Linked DNA regions of Homo sapiens: region 2 is linked to region 1. Evidence: fine-mapped expression QTL. A gene starts in region 1. The other region holds a variant in brackets. All regions are shown on one strand. Distances are between the middles of the regions.

Evidence for each region. PIP is the estimated chance that this variant, and not a neighbour inherited with it, causes the effect.
Region 2: its variant is the best candidate, but not a certain one, in a credible set for the expression of SDK1-AS1 in tibial nerve (GTEx, PIP 0.53).

Annotation. Positions count from the first base shown.
Region 1 is chr7:3,350,551-3,353,475 of GRCh38, reverse strand. It overlaps SDK1-AS1 (SDK1 antisense RNA 1), which reads left to right and starts at 1,391. Exons shown (of 3, transcript XR_001744897.3): 1 at 1,391-2,925. All of the region lies in intron 1 of SDK1 (sidekick cell adhesion molecule 1), which reads right to left.
Region 2 is chr7:3,257,518-3,260,442 of GRCh38, reverse strand. The region is part of intron 2 of SDK1-AS1 (SDK1 antisense RNA 1); the gene reads left to right. Among named protein-coding and RNA genes, the nearest start is that of SDK1, 42 kb to the left of the region's middle. The variant T/C (reference allele first, on the strand shown) is at 1,543.

The DNA.
Region 1 (2,925 bases):
GTGGTATAAATGTAACTCAGCTCATTTGAATTTTTTTTAGAAATTATGGTTACTTCAAAAATTGGGAGTCATGTGAGTTCCTATGTTCAGTATATTTTATAAACCCAAACGTACACTAAGGTTATAGCAACTTTTATTCCAAATGCCATCAATTTTCAAAATAACCCCCAAGATGAAAGATACTCATCAAAGTTTGTAAGTGGCTATTCAGAATTAAGTCAAGCACTTTAAGAAAAGGATAGTAAAAAGGGATATAATCTACTTAATGGTTCTTGGATCTTTCCATGCCATTACTTACACCACTTACCTATCTATCCTCTACTCAGAAAAGGGAACAATGATAACAGGAAACAAAATAGAAATAGAATTGCTGCAGGGTGCAAAAAAAGCTAAATTGGGATAATATAGAAAAAGTACTTTAAAAGAACTAATGACACGGTGGGATATGATCACCAGAAAACATTTCACATACCCTTTATGTCTTGTTTTCCCTCAAGACAGACCCTAACTACAACAAAGTATTCCCATGTAGAGCTTGTTCCTGCATCCATGATGTGACAAATTATTTCTTCAACCTGGTGCCTGTTCCGATTTAGATTCCCACTCTTCGGAAAATACAGGACAGAACTCATTTCCTCCCCAGACACTGTGAATACCTCAATTTTTTCATGCTCCTCAGAACTTTGTGAAAAGAGAAGAGAAAAAAAAAGGGTTTCCCTAGGTCACCAACACAGTAATAATCTGAAAAAAAAAGAAAAATCTCTTCTCTTTTTCCTTCAGGAATGGAAATGGGAAGGAATGGTAAAACCCCAAACAGTGTATCTGTGACAGCCCATGAGTGGCTCTGTTATTCAACATGGAAACAGAAATATCTACTTCAGCTTGTCTGAGCCTCAAATTTCCTTAGGTGTCTGGCCAAAGAACACGTAACTACAGGCACAGCTGGTCTATCAGCCTCTAAATGAATAAAAACAGGAGCCACAGCCTGTGAACTAAGCTCTGGATGTAAATCTCGTGTTTTCAGTAAATCCACAGATCTCTCGTCGTGGCACACCCTCCCTGCTACCAGCAGGAATGATCTCTTCCCCCATTTAGCTCAAACAATTACTTTCCTAATCCCACATACATGATCACTAGCCTCCTAAGAAGAATTCACAAAAATATTGGGGATCTCTGGAACGTGTATCAAGTATTTGGACATCAAAAAAAAAACCTCCCAAATCCTGACAATTTTTACATTTAGTAGGGTCAGAAGTACAGTGATTTTGTATTTAAGTGACAGATTTTTCCATTTTGTAAAACTTTTTAAATGAAACTTTTATAAATATATATTTATATATTTATAAAATTATATATTATACATTATAAGAAATATACTTCTTAATTTATTGACATACAAGGATTTTCCTGTTATCTTTTGGTTGATTCCTTCTATAATTCCGTAAGAAAAATACTCTACATGATTTCAATCATTTGAAATTTATCAATACTTGCTTTATATTCCTATATGTAATCAATGTCAGATGCTCCATGTGCTTGAAAAGAATGGATTATACAGGAACTGTAACATTCTATGAATGTCCATGAGGTCAGATTTGTTCATTGATCATGTTCTTTAAGTCTTCCATATCCTAAGATTTCTGTCTGCAAGTTGTACTATTCAGAAAGGTATGTTAACTTCCCACTAGGATTGTGCATTCAGCTATTTTTCTTGTTTCTGTATATTTTTGCTTTATATAATATGTACCTATATCTGAACTGAACCTTTTACCACTGTGCAGTGATCCTCTTCATCTCTAATGCCTTTTGCCTTGATTTCTATGTTGTCTGATATCAACATGTTATACCAGCTTTATTTTGCTTAAAGTGAGCCTGAAATAAAATTTTCCATTATTTTGCCTTCTGTATCTTTGTTTTTAGATATGCTTCTTGTAAACCTAGTATCTCAGATGTTTTTAATCCAATCTGACGTGTCTTTTAGCAGAATCCTCTAGTCTATTTACATTTATTGTAATTACTGACACTTGAATTTATAGCTATCATGTTATTGTGTGCTTTCTGTTTTTCCTGCCTCCTCTATACTGTCTTCATAGTAGACAGTGGTGTTAAGGTCCATTTTCTAATTTTTCTCCTTGTGTTGAGTAATATCAATAAATTGTTAGGTAAAATGATTCACCAATTTTTATTATTTATATGTCTCAATATAACTTTCCTAAATTCTCATGCTTCTAGTTGAAAGCAAAACATAGGACATAAAATCTTTATGAAATTACAATACAACTACCATCTGGCCTTTAAGATTAACCAATCTATGGAAGTACAAGGCTGCCCATTAAAAATGACAACAGTAGGCTCTCAGAACTGCTGCAGCTTAGTCAGTAACCAAGCTGTTTTCAAATTTTTTATTCTTCTAGTTTTACCCAGTGAAACTAAGATATATTATCACAACATAGATATCTATTTATGTATGTAGTATCAGATATTATTGATTCTTGGGGCAACCAGATGTCACTAATTGTGTTTACCCTACCATAATTCTCCTTTAATACCCAGCTCAAAATATAAACCAGTTAAAGCCAAATTCTTCAGAAGCAAAACGGTGTCATTCTACTTTTAATGGGGGGAAAAAACTATTTTAACAGTCCTACTAATTTTTTTCAGTGTCACACAAACTATCATACTGCAAGATAAATCGTGAGAAGTAAACAAGCCAGTACAAAGCCTAGCATCTTAACACAGTAAATATGACATTGGTGACTGTAGAAGGAAAAGATGAGACATCACCAGGAAAAGGTTTTCCCAAACACCTCACTGACTGGTGGTTCAAGGTAAGACTGTTAGTCTTGTGGCCCAAAGGCTCTATCATGGTCTAGAGTTGATTAGGAAAAATGCCTCAGGGCAAAGTTAAAGACAATCAATTATAAA
Region 2 (2,925 bases), 93 kb after region 1:
ATTTGGCGTGATTCTGTAGGGTTTCTGCACTTTAATCCCTTTGTGATCGCCGTAAATATGTTACAGGAAAGGGGTCCAGATCCAGACCCCAAGAGAGGGTTCTCGGATCTCGCGCAAGAAAGAATTCAGGGCTAGTCCGTAGTGCAAAGTGAAAGCAAGTTTATTAAGAAAGTAAAGGAATAAAGAACGGCTGCTCCATAGACGGAGCAGCCCCGAGGGCTGCTGGTTGCCCATTTTTATGGTTATTTCTGGATGATATTCTAAACAAGGGGTGGATTATTCATGCCTCCCCCTTTTAGACCATACAGGGCAGCATCCTGACGTTGCCATGGCATTTGTAAACTGTCCCGGTGCTGGTGGGAGTGTAGCAGTGAGGACGGCCAGAGGTCACTCTCGTGGCCACTTTGGTTTTGGTGGGTTTTGGCCGGCTCCGTCACTGCAAGCTGCTTTATCAGCAAGGTATTTATGGCCCATATTTTGTGCTGACCTCCTATCTCATCCTGTGACTTAGAATGCCTTAACCATCTAGGAATGCAGCCCAGTTGGTCTCAGCCTCATTTTACCCAGCTCCTATTTAAGATGGAGTTGCTTTCATTCACACACGTCTGACAATTCCTTCTTGCAAAAGACAAAACGCAGGCCATGCATGCTGGCTCATGCCTGTAATCCCAGCACTTTAGGAGGTTAAGAAGGGAGGGAGGTTTAAGGTCAGGAGATCCAGACAAGTCTGGGAAACACAACGTGAAAGGAAAATAAATCTTGGGGCCCCCAAATCACTAAGCTAAAGGAAAAAGTCAAGCTGGGAACTGCTTAGGGCAAACCTGCCTCCCATTCGACTCAATGTCATTCCTCTGTTCACTGAGATGAATGCGTATCTGAATGCCTCCTTTGGAGAGGCTCATCTGAAACTCAGTAGAATACAACCAATTGTACCTGGAAGCCCCCTCCCTACTTTGAGTCATCTGGCCTTTTCTGGACTGAACCAATGTTCATCCTACATTTGTTGATTGATGTCTCACATCTCCCTAAAATGTATAAAACCAAGCTGTGGTCTGACCACCTTGGGCACATGTTACCAGGACCTCCTGAGGCCGTGTCATGGGCTCGCATCCTTAACTTTGGCAAAACAAACTTCCTAAATGGACTGAGACCTGTCTCAGACTTTTGGGTTTCACAATAGTGAGACCCCATCTCTGCAAAAAAATAAAAGAGATTAGCTAGGTGTCACGGCACACGCCTGTAGACCCAGCTACCTGGGAGGCTGAGGCCGGAGGGTCACTTGAGCCCAGGAGTTCAAAGCTGCAGTGAGCTGTGATTGCACCACTGCACTGCAGCCTGGGCAAGACAGAGCAAGACTGTCTCAAAACAAAACAAAAAAACCATACAATCAATGGTGGTAGATATCACAATAGTGTTTTTTCTTTGCTGGGGCTGCCACTGAGAGGAAATTTCTGGGATGCTAGATTCTATACCCTTCTCTGGAGGAATTCACTCTGTAAAGATTCATCATGCTGTATCCTTGAGAGGTGGGAATTCGCCATA[T/C]GTGGGTTACATCTCATTAAGTTATGCCTCTAGATGATCTTGATCTCCTTCTTTATCTAGCTCATATACAATGACAAATGTGGAACATACAGAAACATATAGGGAATGGTGGGTTAAATGCTGCGTACTCACAATTCGACTTTTACAAGCCTTAACATTTTGCTGTTTCCTCCAAATTTTTTCTTGTCTTTTAAAGAAATACAACATCACAGGTAGTAATCGAAAGCCTGGATGTCTCTGTTTCTGATCACACTGTTTGCTCTCCCTCTCCAGAGGTAACCATCATCTTGCGTTTAGTATTTTTCATTTTCATTTATGTTTTTATACCTTCCCAACATATATATTTTATGTAGCCATCAAAGATACATTGTGTTGTTTTGCAGGCTTTTAAACTTTATATGAATGGCATCGTAGAGTTGGAACTCAGCAACTCGCTTTTTCGGGCAAGAGATTTTGTTCTGAGAATTATCCATGTGGATTCACGTAGCTCTATTTCCTTCATTTTAACTACTATATAGTGCTCCATCGCACAAATACACTGTAATTTATTTATCCATTCTCCTAAAGATATTTAAGTTGAGTGACAAAGACTACTGGTTGCTTCCCAAATACTTTTTCCCTCCTTTAGTAACAGATACGCAAAGCAACAATGTGCCCAGCTAAAAGCCTACATTTCTTTACCTCTTTTGCTTCCAGGTGTGGCTACACATATATTCTGGTCACCACAATATAAACAGAACTTTCAGGGGAGGATATATGAGAGCGCTTCTCCAAAGAGGGACAGACTGGGGCATTCGCTTTTGCTCTTCCTCCCTCCCTCGCCCTCTTCTGTTGATTGGAATGTGGATTTGATAGCTGGAGCTCCAGCAGCCACATTAGACCATGCAGTGATGCTGAGGATGAAGCCTCCCTCCTCAGTACGACAGAGCAGGAAGACAGAAGGAAACCAGGTCCCTGGTGACTTTGTGGAGCCTTCATCCCAGCCTTGGATTGATTGATTGATTGATTGATTGATTGATTTTATTTATTTTTTTGAGACGGAGTCTCACTTTGTTGCCCAGGCTGGAGTGCAGTGGTGTGATCTTGGCTCACTGCAACCTCCACCTGCTGGGTTCAAGCAATTCCCTGCCTCAGCCTCCTGAGTAGCTGGGATTACAGGCACCCACCAACACACCCAGCTAATTTTTGTATTTTTAGTAGAGATGGGGTTTCACCATGTTGGCCAGGCTGGTCTCGAACTCCTGATCTCAATCCACCTGCCTTGGGCTCCCAAAGGGGTGGGATTACAGGCGTGAGCCACTGCACCAGGCCTCAACTTTTTTTTTTAACTTGAGAGAATAAACCTTTCTAGAGATACACTTCCATCACTAGCAGCTGAACATT